Regions from separate parts of the Homo sapiens genome. Here region 1 is linked to region 2. Evidence: fine-mapped expression QTL. A gene starts in region 2. The other region holds a variant in brackets. All regions are shown on one strand. Distances are between the middles of the regions.

Region 1 (8,323 bases), 44 kb before region 2:
TTTGATGATAAAACCTAACTCATGGCTTTCCTTTGAGCTGAGCTGGAGGCAGTCCCAGAGCAGCTGGGACCAGGACGGCCTCGACATTGCTGTCTTGGCCAGTGTGTTGGGACTCCAGACTGGGGCTTCCAAAGGGAACTGGCAGCAATGTTAGGGGCACTCTTGCTATTCCCCAAACCTTGCTGTTTCTTCTTTCTTGGCTGACTGGGGATGAGCTGAGACTCAGAAGGATAGTCACCTTGGAAATCACACTATCAGAGCCACCAGGCGGAAATAAGTGACCCAGAGAAAAACGCTATGAAGTAGTGAAGGAGTTGCAGGAGGCGGCAGCGAGGGTCCTTGGGAGTCACTCAGAGGCATGTGGAAGATTCACGCGGGTTAAAGCTGAGCTGATTATGGAATGAAAACTCACTGTGTCCTCTCTCCTCTCTCCTGGTCTGCAGCATTACTTAGGAATAATGTGGCCTCAACTTCCTTCTCTTTCTTTATTATTTTTTTCTTTTTTGAGATGGAGTTTCGCTCTTGTTGCCCAGGCTGGAGTGCAATGGCACGATCTCGGCTCACCGCAACCTCCGCCTCCTGGGTTTAAGCAATTCTCCTGCCTCAGCCTCCCGAGTAGCTGGGATTACAGGCATGTGCCACCACGCCTGGCTAATTTTGTATTTTTAGTAGAGATGGGGTTTCTCCATGTTGGTCAGGCTGGTCTCGAACTCCCGACCTCAGGTGATCCACCCACCTTGGCCTCCCAAAGTGCTGGGATTACAGGTGTGAGCCATTGGGCCCAGGTTCCTTCTCTTTCTTTCAAATTCACCTCTTCTTGGGAAGGTCTGCAGCCTCCTGCGCTCCTGGAACCATTCCCTTCCTAACCTTCCCCACCGCCCCCCGTCATGTCCTCCCAGCTCTCTCACCATGGCTCAGCCACGTGTTAGGTATTGAGATCCAGTCTTGACCAGAGGCCTCAGGTGGACAGTCTGTAAGGAGCTCCAGGCCAACACCCTGAGCTCAGCATGGACACCAGCCATCCCCTCCCTTGTGCCTGAGCTGCTTTCTGACTTGCTTCCTACTCTTGGCCATTTGCCTGGACCCCAGATCCTCCAAGGCTAGCACTCCTCACTCTTTTCAGAGCCTCTGCCTCTGTGCTGAATTGTCAACCCTTGGGCTAGGGGGCCCTGTGACCAGCCAGCAACCTTCAAAGTGCTCACACCTGCACTTCAGCATCATCTGGGCCTGGATTGGGGGCCACCAGCCTGAAAGATATGCCGGTGCTGCATATTTGGCTGCCTGCTTCCTACATGACTACCTGGTGTCTGCTGCCAGCTGTTTTGTCCCATGGGTTGGGTGACCTCTCAGTCCTGCAGTTGGCCTGGAGAGTGGGCATGTCCACTAAATTAACAGCTGACAGTAGTTGGAGGCGTCACCTCTGATTGACTGCATGTTGACAGGGGATGCTAACAGGATGACAGGGAGGGGACAAAGTGTAGGGGCTTTGGGAGTAGGGAGTTTGCCCTGGGCTGTTCCAGTTGCACTTTACACTACAGCCTATGTCTGCACTCTGATACATCTATCCACTTCCAGCTGCCCTACATCCTTCCCTCTCCTTCAGCTGGTCTTGCCAAGCTTCTCCGCGGCTTCCACAGCACCTGCTCCCCATCATCATGGGCACCACCACACCCTCACCCCTTGCCTGCCCCATGACCGCCGCCAGCTCTAGCCTGCCATTCTCAGAAGACATGCAGGCTTGCGTAACTCCCTGTAACTGACATGAACCTCTTCTCCTCACCCCCTCCCCTCCCCTCCCCTCCCCTCCCTTCCCTTCCCCTCCCTTCCTCTCCACTATCCTCTCATTCCCCTCCCTACCCCGCATCCCATTTTCTCTGGCTGACATAATTTTACTCAGCTCACAGGTTTTGCTCTTTTCATCACTTTGGTCAAAACAAATGACCCATCTCTGCTGCCTTCACCCTCTTGAATTCTTGAACTCCAAGTCAACTCCTCGCTTTAGACCCTTAAACACCATCTCTCTGCCCACACACTGGATGTCCCTCTCTTCTAAGGAAACTTCTCACATTAGGTGCTGGGATGTACGGAGGAAAAAAAAAAAAAAACCCGGGTGCCAGCCAGAAAGAAAATGTAGAGCCAGTTATAAAAAAGGGTCCATGGGCTGGGTGCAGTGGCTCACACCTGTAACCCCAGCACTTTGGGAGGCCAAGGTGGGCGGACCAAGGTCAGGAGATTGAGACCATTCTGGCTAACATGGTGAAACCCCATCTCTACTGAAAATACAAAAATTAGCCGGGTGTAGTGGCGCCCATTTGTAGTTCTAGCTACTCGGGAGGCTGAGGCAGGAGAATCACTTGAACCCAGGAGGTGGAGGTTGCAGTGAGCTGAGATCGCGCCACTGCACTCCAACCTGGGCAACAGAGTGAGATTCCATCTCAAAAAACAAAAAAACAAAAAAAAAAGGGTCCAGGGACTTTTATCACATGACCCTGTGGTTACTCTGGGCTTGTAGAGGTCTTAATCCTCTGGTGCAGTGGTTTCGAAGTCCAAGGGCTTTCTAGGGGCAGGGACCCCTTCTAAAAGAGCAGTTCTTCAGGGGTCTGGTGAGCATACATGTCTTCTGTAAAAGGCTTCATTTCAAGAGAGCATTGAGAGGCCCAAATTTGAAACCACTGGTCCAGATGGACTGTCTGACTCTGGGCTGCCTCTGTGACAGGTCTCACACACCCCACCCACGCACTGGTCTCTGCTCCAGCATTTCAAGGTCGTCGGGGTAGGAGGGTGTGGGAGGTGAAGAGGCATTTACTTCTGTCACTAAATACCCACACTCCTTGGAGACAGTGCCGCTATTAAAGAGATTCCTCCAATGCTGAACTGAGAGCTAGCTGGCTTCCTTCCCTGGTCCTGGGCCCCCACTGGGCCCACATCTAAAATAGTCCTATCCCTGTGGAAGCCCTTGAGGTATCTGAAGACCATATGGGTCTCTGCTTCCCACTTTCACTGCATCTCAGGCCCTCTCCAACCCAAGCCAAGCGCTTGACTCTCAGCCATTCCTCAGGCCCTGGCTGGATGAGCGAAGGTCCTTCTGCCAGGAGGAGCCAGCTCCCCTTGAGGTCTGACTCATGCAGTGCAGGCCCAGGCCTCAACCAGCTACAGATGGTGCTCCTGCCCAGAGACCTTGGCAGGGACCTTCTCCTCCCTGGGCCAGGTTCCTCATCAGCATAAGAGGTTTGATCTAGAGGCTCCCTCAGGTGCTTCCAGATTTACTTATTTTTATTTATTTGTTTTTTTCTTTTTTGAGATGGAGTCTTGCTCTGTCACCCAGGCTGGAGTGCCATGGCGCCACCTCAGCTCACTGCAACCTATGCCTCCTGGGTTCAAGCGATTCTCCTGCCTCGGCCTCCCCAGTAGCTGGGATTACAGGTGTCTGCCACCACACCCCCTAATTTTTTGAATTTTAGTAGAGATGGGGTTTCATCATCTTGGCCAGGCTGGTCTTGAACTCTTGACCTTGTGATCCACCTGCCTCGGCCTCCCAAACTGCTGGAATTACAGGGGTGAGCCACCTCGCCCGGTCGGTGCTTCCAGCTTTAAATATTTTGAGGCAGTTGAGGTTCCTGATGGGAGGTCCCCCACTCCTCTCAAGTTGTTGAATCACTGAATTTATCATGTTTAACAGATGTCTGACTGTCCTCCCGGTGATGCTGTTAAGCTAGGAATGAAGATAGCTGCATCATGGAAACACAACTGGGACTGACCCTTGGCCTTTTTAGAAATTTGATCCAGAAATGGGCTCCAAAAGCCAATTCCTTTTTCCCTCCAAAATGTTCATTTTTCCTTCTATCTATTTATGCATTTACCAAGGCCAAGTTGCTACGTTACAGCACCCGGCTCCCGGCCTTAGGGTTCCTGCTTTTCCATGGGGTCTTGGGGTGGTGCATCCCCGGCACCCCTACAGCATCCGCCCCTTCCGAGCATGTCT[TCC/T]CCGTCACAGAGAACTTCATGTTGGCGCCTCCAAAAGTTGCCGGAGGAATTAGGGAACAGGGTGGGGGTGGATGAGACTGAGGCCAGAGAGGGGGCTGGCGGTCTGCCCTGAGGACCCCCGTCCCACCCGCCGCCATAGCTGCATGGCCCCGGGACCTCCCTGTCGTACCTGAGAGGAGGGCCTGGCCCGTGAACTGCCCGTACACGGAGGCAGCATGGGGAAAGGCATTGAAGGGCGGGACCCCGGAGCCGACTTGCTGCAGATCCAAAAAGGCGGAGCTAGATAAAGAGGAAGGGGTGGAGCTAGAACTGGACACCTCGGGGGTTTCCTGCTTTATGGCGAAGGGTGAGTGAGGATCTGCCGGAGGGAGGGAGACAACAAGGAGAGAGGGGTGTGAGATGGCGGGGAGGGAACACGCACAAGCCAAGCCGTGGGATGTGGAGGGTGCGGGCGGGGCGCGGGGCAGGCTCAGCTGCCCTCAGAGTCTGGGCTGGGGAGAGCCGGGGCCCACGAGGCGTGGCAAGGCGGGGAGAGAGAAGCTAGACCTCCCTGCTGCGCTTCTGCAGCGAAAATGGAGAGACCCGGAAGGCGTGTGTGCGCCCGCCTCTCCCACAGGAGGGAGCGCGGAGACCCGGGAGCGGCCTAGGACCGGAGGCGCGACCCCTCGGCCCACCTTGAGGCCCGGCCTAGGACCGGAGGCGCGACCCCTGGGCCCACCTTGAGGCCCGGCCTAGGACTGGAGGCGCGACCCCTCGGCCCACCTTGCGGGAGCCGCCTAGGACCGGAGGCGCGACCCCTCGGCCCAGCTTGAGGCCCGGCCTAGGACCGGAGGCGCGACCCCTCGGCCCACCTTGCGGGAGCCGCCTAGGACCGGAGGCGCGACCCCTCGGCCCACCTTGAGGCCCGGCCTAGGACCGGAGGCGCGACCCCTGGGCCCACCTTGAGGCCCGGCCTAGGACTGGAGGCGCGACCCCTCGGCCCACCTTACGGGAGCCGCCTAGGGCCGGAGGCGCGACCCCTCGGCCCAGCTTGAGGCCCGGCCTAGGACCGGAGGCGCGACCCCTCGGCCCACCTTGAGGCCCGGCCTAGGACTGGAGGCGCGACCCCTCGGCCCACCTTGAGGCCCGGCCTAGGACCGGAGGCGCGACCCCTGGGCCCACCTTGAGGCCCGGCCTAGGACTGGAGGCGCGACCCCTCGGCCCACCTTGAGGCCCGGCCTAGGACCGGAGGCGCGACCCCTGGGCCCACCTGGCGGCCCGGCCGGCACAGCCCGCCTCTCCTCTCCAGGCCAGGGCCCCACACCTTCCGCCTGACAGCCAGCCAAGCTCTTCAGTCCCCCGCCCTCCACCTGCCAGGGAGGCTCCGGGCGTTGTACCTGCCACCACGGGGTAGGTCTGGTGAGTCGAGAGGTTGCGCCCCAGTGGCGTGTTGGAAGGGGTCAGGGTGGCCTTCCCGTCGTCCAGGGTGCTGTTGAGCAAGGGCAGCGGGTAGAGGCCCTGGGGAGCAAAGAGAAGTCAGCGCACAGAGACGATCCAACAAGCCGACCTTCCTGCAGACCCTGAGCCTGTGTCTTAGGACTTGGCAGCCCTCATCTCCCCAGGAGAGGTCCTCATCGCCCCCTTCTTCCTTTACGTTCTCAACTCCACTCGGCACGTTTCGTTCATGCTCATTGTCCTCCCGCATCCCTGGAATTCAAGGCCAGCTGGTAGCATGGGTGCCCAGACGTGGGATAGAGAGTCTCAGCCAGAGGACCACACCCTGGTTGGATGGCTGGTCGGCTTCCTGGTTTCACCACACTGTTGGGACCCACAGAATGCAGGACGGTGCCAAGGACTGGAGCAGTCTCCAACCGGACTGTTCAGGGTCCTTGCATCTGTTAATTTATTCTTCCCCAGATAGGAAACCCAGGCACAAAGGTTTAAGAAACTTGTCCCACTTCCAGATGGGCCAAAGATAGGATTCAGATTCGAGGGATCAGAATGTGTCTGCTCTCAACCACTGCCCTAAACTGGGTGACATAAGGACCACTTCTTACATTTGCAAAGAGCTTATATCAGAGCTTTGCCTCTGTTGTCCTAGTAGAGTCCCCCAGCAGCCCAGTGACATGGGTGAGTAATATTATGTCTGTGTTTTATATGTGGAGCCTGGAACTCAGGTAAATGGCCCAATTTTGTATAGTGAAACAGACTAAACCCGGGATTTTTCGGCTGTGGACCCAGGTGCTTTACCCACCACGTGGATTTCTTCTTTTCTCTCTCCACATCCAAACAAATAGAAGTGTGCAAGTTCGGCTTGAAAATGGTATTGAGAGTTGTTTTTGTTGGAAACACTCTTTGTCAAGTACCTGGGGGTCTTCATCAGTAAGACCTCATTTTAGATGCCTCCTGGCCTCCCCTTCCCAGGAGCACAGCTATGACCTTAGGTACTCCTTCCGAAAAGAACTTGTTTAACTAAAGGTAAGTGTACCTCATCCTCACCATGGCCTCCTTCCACTGGGGAAGCAGATAGCGCAGAAAAAAGAACACACCCATTCCCCACATACCTTCACACTCGTCACATACCTGCTACGTGAGATGTGCAAAGCTGAATTCAGGGAATGCTCAGTAGTTACATAACAGTGCCACTAAAGGCAATTGTTTTCAGTGATTTCCATCGAGCTGGGTTCTGCAAAGATCCACAGCACTTTCCGGTTGCATGCTGGGCACTTTTGGAAGCTGCAGTCAATTCTGGAGGCCACCAGGGCACCATTAGCACATAGCAGCAATTATTGACTAAATGGTGCTCTGGTTCCATGCCTTCCAAGGGGGCCCACTTAGAGGCAGGGTGGAGTTGCTTAGGGCCTTTTTTTTTTTTTTTTTTTGTAGACGGAGTTTTGCTCTTGTTGCCCAAGCTGGAGTGCAATGGTGCGATCTTCGCTTACTGCAACCTCTGCTTCCTGGGTTCAAGTGATTCCCCTGCCTCAGCCTCCCGAGTAGCAGGGATTACAGGTGCGTGCTACCATGCCAGGCTAATTTTTTGTATCTTTAGTAGAGACAGGAGTTTCACCATGTTGGCCAGGCTAGTCTTAAACTCCTGACCTCATGATCTGCCTGGCTTGACCTCCCAAAGTGTTGGGATTACAGGCATGAGCCGTTGCACCTGGCCAGGGTGTGTCTTATTGAAATTGAACAAAATACCTAATTTCTAGAGCGTATAAGAGAAGTTTAAAATGCTTTATGGATGTGTTGTTTTGACAGCAAAATATCTACTCAGAATCCTATAGCTATTTCAAAATCCAAGTAACTTAGAAAAAAAGGAAAAAGAAAACCTATATAGTCAAATCTTTTGGTGATTTTGTATTCAATGACTGAAACTTCCCAGTGATTATTGGGCTTTTTAGCTGGAATTGAACTTGAATCGGGGCAGAGCAGCACAATGCTTCAGAACTTCAGCGACTCTGAGCCCTGGTTCTGCAATGACCTGCCAAGTAGCTTTAGTCTACTTGACTGCTCTGAACCTTAATTTTCTCACCTGTATGGGAATCATAGACTCTACTTTATGAGGCTGACGTAAGCATTACATGAAATTTTGTATACTTATACATAATGTGCTTAGCACCGAATACTTGGTGACAGCAGATGCCCAATGAGAGTTATCACAGATATTATTTCAGAATCGTGAAGAGTCAGAAGCCACCAAATTCTTGATTTCTGTCAATAAACTGATATTCATATTCTGTTGATTTTTTTTGATGCATTTGTAAAATAGGGAAACAAGAGCTGTATGACTTCTAGCTATGTCTGGTCATGAAATAGCAACCAGGAATAAGGCCACATGATGTTTCTGATGAACACTTCCCCCTGCCCTTTTTTTTTTTTTTTCAGATGGAGCCTCGCTCTGTCACCCAGGCTGGAGTGCAGTGGCACAATCTCGGGTCACTGCAACCTCCGCCCCCCAGCTTCAAGCGATTCTCCTGTCTCAGCCTCCCGAGTAGCTAGGATTACAGGTGCACGCCACCAGGCCTGGCTAATTTTTATATTTTTAGTAGAGATGGGATTTTGCCTTGTTGGCCAGGCTGGTCTCAAACTCCTGACCTCAGGTGACCCATCCACCTTGGCCTCCCAAAGTGCTGGGACTACAGGTGTGAGCCACCATGCCTGGTCCCCCACTTGTTGATTTTGCAGAAAAGATAGCTGTGTTACAACCTGTCCTAAGGTCAGGTATGAATACTTGTGCTTCTTTCTTGGCTCCCCAAGCCAGAGGGCATTCCTATGCCCAGGTGAGAGAGCACGGAGTGTTACTTTGGCAGCACAGTCAGTTACCAGAGGTAGGAAAAGCAAAGGCCAGGCAGGACATGAG
Region 2 (8,323 bases):
CGTCCTCTGCCTTGTCTTATTTTACCACTTGAATGAACTATTTTCGGGACTGGTGGGAGTGGGCTGCGACAAGTTATTTAAGATAACTTTTAATGACAGCCAGCCTGCTTGCTTTTACAAAACTCTCTTCCTCATTGGTACAGTATTGTTTTCACTTTTATATATATGGGGCATTTATCGTTTCTTCTGCATCTTTGAATTTTTTTAAAAATGTTTTTGCTTTAGAGAATTTCGTCCCTGATGCAACAAAAATAGCGATTTTAAGGAACGTTCAGCCCATCGCTGACCTGCGCACGTTAAAATGATTCGCGTTCAACATTCCTGCAGAATAAAGCTGTAGGAAAGACAACGTTAAGACTCTCTGCAAGGCAAGACCAGCCAACGACGAGGCGACCCCGTGGCAGGCTGGGCGGCGGAGGCCGCGCGGGGAGGTTTTCTCGAGCGTCCCCGGTTATTGGGAAGGGTGCGCTCGGCCTCGCTCCCGCGGAAAGCCGTGTGGCCGCCTGCGTCCCGGGCTCTGCTCACAGAAAACTCAAGGGGAGCTCCCTAAGCACGGCCGGTCTCAGGAACAGAGGTGCCTGGGGAAAAGGGGGAACCTGCTAAAACCCGAGAGATAATGGGCTTGTAAAAACCAGAGGGGTCCGCTTATGAGTTTAGCTCCGGTTATAGACAACAGTGTCAGGTAAGCTGATCAGAAAGACAGACGGCCTCTCCCTCAGGTTTGCCGAGGGAGGGTTCAGAAAAGAAACAGGGAGCGCCTTCAGCAGTCTATGCGGTTATAGGCCATTTTCTTGTTTTATTAGCGTTTAAATTAAACTATGAGAAGAAAGTCTCATCTTCCCTCCCTCGCCACTTTGTCTATTTGTTTTGGAAAGAGGGTAGAAGAAGCCCCTCTGTCTTCCCGAAAAGAAGAAAGGGGAAAAAAATTACCTGGTAGGTCCAGGGGCAGAGGGCTCCCTCCCAAAACCCAAGCGCGATTTGCATCCAAGCTAGTGGGAAAGCGCGCATCTCATCATCTGGGACTGTTCCTGATTAAAACTACAGTAAAAATAAATTGTGCCTTTATTTATTCTTTCCATACTCTATTTCCATCTATTCTAACGAGTACTTCTAGAATGAAAATAAGTAGCCGCGAAAAAAAAAAAAAGCTCATCTGAGGGACGGGGACATCGTCTCATTTCTTGGGCAGCGGCAGAGAGTAAGGGTCCAGCCCGGCCACAGTGAATTTGATTTCCGAGAGCACTCACTCCTCCTGCCACCGCCGGAAGGGTCAGGGGAAGGTTAGGAGGAAAGATGGACCTCCAGAGCCGAGCAGAAGTGCCATTGCACCAGCTTGGCGCAGAAGTGCCATTGCACCAGCTTGGCATGGGCACCGGGCACTGCACATTAGGCCTCAGGGATGGTCCTGGCGATGTCTGGTATCGTACCACGGTTTGGCTAAAGATTAAGGGACTAAAACCTGATCCTGACCTTAGATAGTGGCCTAGGAGCGCTCGTGGTTCCAGGACGCGGACCGTAAAGAGGTGCCAGGGAGCTCTGCTCGGTCCCAGGGCTCCCCAACCCCGCCGCGCCGGGGAATGGCTGCGAGGTCTCTCCCCTGAGGACCTTGAAGGGACCCCGCGCCTTCTGGGGGCAGCCGGACGATTCTGGCCCAGGTCTCTGAGGGGAATGGGGGCCGGGAGGGAGCATTCGTCTGCAGCTCTAGAGAGAACCCGAGTGAGAAATCTTCCGGCGCCCCAGGGGGTTCCCGCTCCCCTCCTAGTTGGGCCATGGCCCTGGGACTGGAGACTGCGCCGCAGAGCCCGGGCCCCCGCAGTGCGCTTGGCTAAATAGAGATCTCAGCCTCGCTGCGCGCCCGATCCGACCCTCCTTATTATAACAAATGTCCCGTTTGCAGAGCGGGACATCATATTCGCGGAGAATTCATTCTGAAATATTGATTTCCTCTCACTTCGCCGGCCCAAATCGATAGCGATGCGCCCTGGCCCCATAAATCGCCTTCTCTGCGGCCGGCCGGGCTCCATCCATCACTGCGGGCCGCGCTGCGCCTCCACCGCTGTCCGCACTCGCTGCGCGCCGGGACGGCTGCGCCCACCAGCCCTGACCCTGGAGCTCCTTCCCAGCAAAGACCCTGCCCAGCCCTGGCCGGGAAGGGGGAAAACAGGCATCGCGGCCTGGGAGCTCGAGTGTGTTTGAAGGCCCTGCTTCCGGGCGCAGGTGGGGAGGGGGTTTTGACTCCGCGAGCGGCTTAGTCCTCACCAGCCGGACGCCCCGCGCGCGGCGCCCGGCCTGCCCGGTGCTGGGCCAGGAGGAGTCGGAGAGCACCTGAGTGCGCTGCCGGCTCCCGGGCCCGGGACCACCGGCTCCATTGCCGTTGGCTTGAGAGATGCGGGGAGCTCACAGTCCAGCCAGGGGAGTCACTGGGAAGGACTGCGCGCACCCGAGGAAGAGGACTTAGAGGTCGGGGACGGGGAAACGGCAAGTCCAGCACCGGTGCAGCCCAGGGACAGAGCACGAAGAATGTCCACACTAATGCGCCATGCAAGGCTGGGAATGGAGCTCAAAGGAAACCCCCTCTAACTCCACAGAGATCCCCTCACCGATCCATGTGGTCCCTCGAAACCGGGCAAGGGCGGCTCAGCTGGCCGGGTGGAACCCCAGTGCCCGAGAACAGCGAGGCGGCTCCAGCGGAGGGCCAGGCCCCAGGCGCCCCAGCTGGGTCCCCACGCGGGTGGGTCCCGCGAATCCCGTGCTGACGCTCTCGAGATCCAACCACCCGAGCGCACGCACGGACGCTCAGCGGCGCGGGGGCTCGGGGATCCTGACCACACCGCGTTCTTACCAGATCTGATGGAGTTGTGAGGCATCGCCGGGGAGTCGCTCGCAGCCCGCCGAGGGCTCGGGGCTTCCTCCCGTAGGTCCGGGCCGCGCCTGCCGCTGCCCTGCACAAACCCAGGAGAAGGGCATGAGATGCGATGAGATTCGATGCCTGCATCCTCAGGCCCCCTCCCCAGGCCTCATCCTTTACACCTGCATCGTCTGCCAGGAGTAGGAGGATTTTTAGGCGAAGTAGGGCCAACCTCAGCCTAGCCTAGCTAACAGGCTTCCCGGGAGGATCAAGGATTGGGAGTGCGCTGAAGAAGCTCCAGACTCCAACCTCCGTGCCCACTCCCTCCGCTGTCCCAGTCTTATCCCGTTTAACTTGGGAGGGAAAAGGCTGCCAGGCATCCTGGGACCCTCTCCTTTCTTCCATCCCCCGTCCTCACTGCTAGCCAGCTTCCAGCTAACCCCTGGGTGACATACCTGGCCGGCCGGCTGCAGGCCCTCACTGCTTGGGTCCGCCCGCGAGGGTGCCCTGGGCCCGGTGTCTCTCCTCCTTCTGAAGTTTGTTCCCATCCACCCGGCATCACCGACCGGTTTTATCCCGCTGAGGCCCTGGGAGATGGGTCTGGCGAGGCTCGTAGGCCGCGGATTGGCTGGCTGGGTGCAGGGGGGTGCGGGAAGGGGAGGATTTTGCAAGGGGGACATGGCTGAGTGGACTCAGGAGTTAGAAACATTCGCTGGGAGCTTCTGTTTCCAGCGGAGGGAAGAGGGAGGCAGCTGAGCCCTAACTCAGCAGGCCTGGAAATATTGGAGGAGTGGGGAACAGAGGCCTAGGAGCCTGAGGATGAGGTTCTCTGGGTCCTCCTGGGTCACTGACCACCAGAAGTGAGAGGGATGGTCTCTGTAGGATGCCCTCCTTGCCCCCTGTCTCCCCTGGTTTGCTCACCAGGAAGCAGCCTTTTCTTTTGTAAAAGGAAGGAGGGAACTTCTGTTTTATGCCTGATTCTTTAGGTAGAGCCTGCTTTCGGGGCTGTAGGCAAGATGCTATTACCTTCTCACCACAGCTATGACCTCTTCCAGGGAAGAATCCTGAGCAGCACCTGAAGCCATTCCCTCTGTTCTACACAGATAGCGTTCACACCCTTGCATTGTCAGGCTAACAAAATTGTCACATAACCCATTCCACAGCAACTCCTCGCCTCTCTCCTCTGGAACACACACGCAGCCACCTGCCCTCTTTCTTGCTCCTTGAGGATTTTGAACTTGGAAGAAGAGTTCAGGGGAAGGGCATTGAGGGCCTAGACTTCATCTCTGTGTGGAAAGGCCTTAGAAAGGAACAGGACTGAGCTGACCTCTGGCCTGGTCTGTAGGAATCAATAGCCTCAGCAATATGGGGGCCTGGGTGTGGTTAAGAAGGGGTCCACTGGTGGGAATGATGGCAGGGTTGGTGAGCCCTGGGACCGAGCAGAGCTGCCTGGCACCTCTTTACCTTAGTGATGGCAAAAGCTGCCCCCTCCTTCCTCATAGTTCTCTCAGTCGGGGAACCGGGGTACACGTAAGATTGTGAGTGGGTATGAGTGAGCAAATGTCCTGGAACACTGGCAGGCCTGGGGGTCAAGGCCTGGATGCTCCTCCAATCTTTGGCCAGACCTCTGGACTCAGGATTACAGTCTAGAGGACAGCCATGCCCTTTTCAGTGATGGCTCTGCAGGCCTGGTGGGGTTGTTCTGGGACAGGAGGCTAAGAAGCCAGTGGGAGGGGGGCAAGGAAGGTGCAGGGGAAACTGGGATATTCAGGGGGATTGGATGTGTGTGTGTGTGTGTGTGTGTGTGTGTGTATGCACATATGTACACGTGTGTGAAAACACATGAACTATTTTTCTGAATTAAAAAAGTTTTCTCTTTCATGTCAATCCACAACCTCCTTCCACCCAGTCTTTCTCATTTCTCAATTTAGGAGAAATGAATCATCTTGTGAAAAAAGAGAGAAGAAGATGTGTATCCCTACATGTTTCCTCCACATTTGCAAAGAGGGGCTGTAAACAAAAATAGTTGGTGCTTCATCATTTTAAATCTTTCTCTAAAATTGTAATTTTAAATATCTCTGTGGTTTTCAAAGCTCCAGATCCCTAACTTCTCTGGCAGTCCCTCCCAGAGAGAGACAATCCAAGGGTGTTGGGATGGAAATGGATCTTGGCATAGGTCCTCCGGACCCCATGGGCCAGTTTGCTGCCCTGGATTGTGTCCTGCTGCAGGGGAGGTGTGGAGTGTGGCAGCCACAGCAGAAACTCTCTTTGTCCACCCAGGATTCCCTCCCACCAGGGAGGCAATGCTCCAGGGTGAATCTAATACGCCCTCATTTCAAACAGCTCTGACAACCTTAGAGATTCTACCCAATCTAAGGTTCTGATACGTACCAATAACCATTGACTCTCATGCAATCATTCTTGCCTGTGCACATCTTTTCTGCCCAAGCAATGAACCCTCTCCCTTTCCTATCCCCTTTTTGGGCAAAATTTCTTAGAGGACAAATCCAGCAAGTTATCAGAACATTCCTGTCCCATGTATAAATTTATCTTTAAAATTTCATTTCAAGGTAAAAACAATGTGCACTGTTCAAGGTTACTCCTCAGGGAAAAACACACCCCACACCTTGACAGTACCTCTTCTCCAGACTGCAGGTGACATAGCAGGTGACCAGAAGACTCAGCAGAGAAGATCTAGGACGAGCAAGAAGTGAGAATGCAGTGAACTTCTGCTGCAGAGATAAACACAGGCCTCCTGGACTGACCCTGCTTCTAATTAGAATCAGAAATCAGGCCTGGGTTCCTTGGTACTTCCTAATTCTCTGAGACCAAGGCCAAGGAAATGTCATTAACTGGTGCTTTAACTCTGTCTCTTTGGCATCAGTCTCCTCCTCTGCAAAACGAAAGGTTTGAAATACATATATTTTTAAAATCACCTATTATCACAGTATTTTTTCAAACTTAAAATCCATGATGCTTTTAGTTAAGAATAAAAATCATATGCCTTCCTATGATGATATTTGAAATTTTAAAATAAATTTGCACTGTGACTAATAGACTTTCAATGGGACTTTTAGAACTCTTTTTTTTTTCTTCTAGACTTAGTCTCACTCTGTCACCCAGGCTGGAGTGCGGTGGCATGATCTCGGCTCACTACAACCTCCACCTCCTGGGTTCAAGTGATTCTCCTGCCTCAGCCTCCCGACTAGCTGGGGCTACAGGTATGCATCATCATGCCTGACTAATTTTTTATATTTTGGTAGAGACGGGGTTTCACCACATTGGCCAGGCTGGTCTCGAACTCCAGACCTCAAGTGATCCGCCTGCCTCAGCCTCCCAAAGTGCTGGGATCACAGGCATGAGCCACTGTGCCTGGCCAGGCCTTAGAACTCACTTTTTAAAATGAATACCTCATTTGCCAACTTTTCTTCTCAGGCTTGAGGCCCATAAGGCTTTTGTGGCAATATTATCAACTGGCAACTAGTTATAATTTTTTTAAACTCAGTGTTTTTTTGAGAAAATGTAATTCATTGCCAATATCAAAATACAGAAGTAGAGACGAGAGACTAACTCTGCCTTGCCTTTGAAAATGCAAGAGATCTGGCCGCAGATCTGAGCGTTTCTTTGTGGAAATGAACATTCTTTCAGGTTTAACATTCCAACAATCCTAGGTAATTGCCTAACTACAGTGGTTTTTGAATTTGCATAATATCCCACAATTTGTTTAATTCTATGCTGATCTGCTGAGCCTTCAAAAGATGTTCTTTCTTTTCTGGACTCAGCTGTAATGCACTGGGCTGGTGGTAGGGTAATAAAGTGCCCTGGTTTGCCCTGGACGAAAACCAACAGTGTTTTCTAGATGCGAGTTAAAACTGGGACTTTCCCGGGCAAATCAGGATGAATTGGTCATCCTAGCTGATTAGAGTGTGGGAGTGGGATGGTTTGGGGGTCTTTTATAAGCTGCCGTGTTTCAACTGACTATTGGGTGGGTGATTGTTTGCACACTTGGGTCATTCTACCTGCTGGCTCAGGTGACTGAGACCCTTGAACTCCAGTAGGTCCATGAGCTCTTCCTCTTACTCCTATGTACCCTGGTTTCTCTGGGCACAATGCCCAGAGACCAGCCTCGAGGGAAGACCACTGCTCCCAACAATCCTCCTGGCTTACTTGCCACCATGCCACTTCCCCTACGTAACGAACCATTGTTGGGACTAAAGTACATCCCTTCAGGAAGAAAACAGCAGCTCTCTACTTTGCATCAGAGGTGAGTGTTCCAGCCCTAATTGTGTAGAATGGGATGATTTCTTCTGCCCGAACCTCAGTTTCCCCTTCTGCATGATGTGGATATAGACGGGGGGCTGGGGAGGGTCAGACCCACCTCGTAGCTTTGTTGTGAGGACGAATAAAATTATGAATGTGAAGGCCCTTTGAAAACTACACCTCTGTACAAAAGTTAATTATTATTAGACAACAAAGGCAGAGGAATACATCCAAAGAGGGCAAAGTTAAAATGTCCCTAAAGTTTTGCTGTGGAAGTCGGTTCCTTTAATCCTTTCCCAAAGGAGCCTTGGAGAGGAAAGGGCCAGTGAGCCCGTGCCTGTGGGTGCAGGCGTGGGTGCAAGGGTAGCAGTGGGGCAGGGGTGTCTGTGAGGGCAGCAATTAACATTCGTTGACCCAGAGAGAGGGGAGAGTCAATGGCAGAAGGCCAGCACCCCAGCAGAACTTCCAGCAGCGACTTCATCATTTTGCAGAGGGCAGAAGTGTTCAGGGCACTGGCAGTTTTCGCTCCACCCTCTCCCCTCACAGACTTGCCCAATCCTGCCGAAGCCACGTGGGATTTCAACCCTGTCCCTGCACTCAGGAAATGGCCGACAGCCTGCCCTGGGGCCTCCTGGTGGCAGTGCCTGAAAATCAATCATTAATTATTCCAGGTTCTCCACCTCCCTAGGCTTTGAAAACTCAGAAATAGAAATATAGGTCCTGGCAGGTGAAAGGAAAAGAGCCACTGGTTGGGCTGCCGAGGGCAGTTTGGAAGAAACCACTGGTGGCATTTGTCCAGTTGGTTTGGGTAGGGATGTGTCCTGGGCACTTGTCCCTTGGGCTCTTTGCCCACCCCACAGCCTTTGGCAGCAGTTGCCTGGGCTTCTGGAAGGAGACCCTGGTACTTACAAATGGGTGGAAAAAAAACTTCCTGGGGACACAAAAAGGAAGGTGACAGAGGGAGATAAAAGGATTGACGTACACAGCTCAATTTTTTTCTCTAGTAATCATAGTTTTTTTTTTTTTTTTTTTTAAGTTAGAAAAAATGAGCTAGACCCTTTTGGCAACCCATCTTGCAGATGAGGAAACTGGATTCTAGGGAAGGTAAGTAGAGAGCAAGGCCACCCAGCTAGCAGACAGCCAACTAGGTGGCCAAATAAAGCACCAGTGACTCAGGCTTTGCCTTAAATATTATAAATTCTACTCACTTCAGCC

Alleles and levels. Positions count from the first base shown, and alleles are read on the strand shown. Sizes are in standard deviations (SD) of each study's normalised expression.
With allele TCC in place of T in region 1, the expression in esophagus muscle of the gene that starts at base 3,394 in region 2 is higher (large effect, 1.0 SD a copy in GTEx).

The links.
Region 1: its variant is fine-mapped to the expression of PAX8 in esophagus muscle (GTEx, PIP 0.94). The same link has a PIP of 0.9 or more in testis.

Annotation. Positions count from the first base shown.
Region 1 is chr2:113,231,241-113,239,563 of GRCh38, forward strand. PAX8 (paired box 8) reads right to left here. Exons shown (of 12, transcript NM_003466.4): 8 at 5,361-5,481; 9 at 4,154-4,342. It overlaps PAX8-AS1 (PAX8 antisense RNA 1), which reads left to right and starts at 5,029. Exons shown (of 6, transcript NR_015377.2): 1 at 5,029-5,382. RefSeq lists an enhancer at 3,926-4,115 and a silencer at 4,366-4,445. The variant TCC/T (reference allele first, on the strand shown) is at 3,983.
Region 2 is chr2:113,275,528-113,283,850 of GRCh38, forward strand. It overlaps PAX8 (paired box 8), which reads right to left and starts at 3,394. Exons shown (of 12, transcript NM_003466.4): 1 at 3,304-3,394; 2 at 2,843-2,942. The coding sequence starts at 2,867. RefSeq lists a promoter at 2,867-3,996.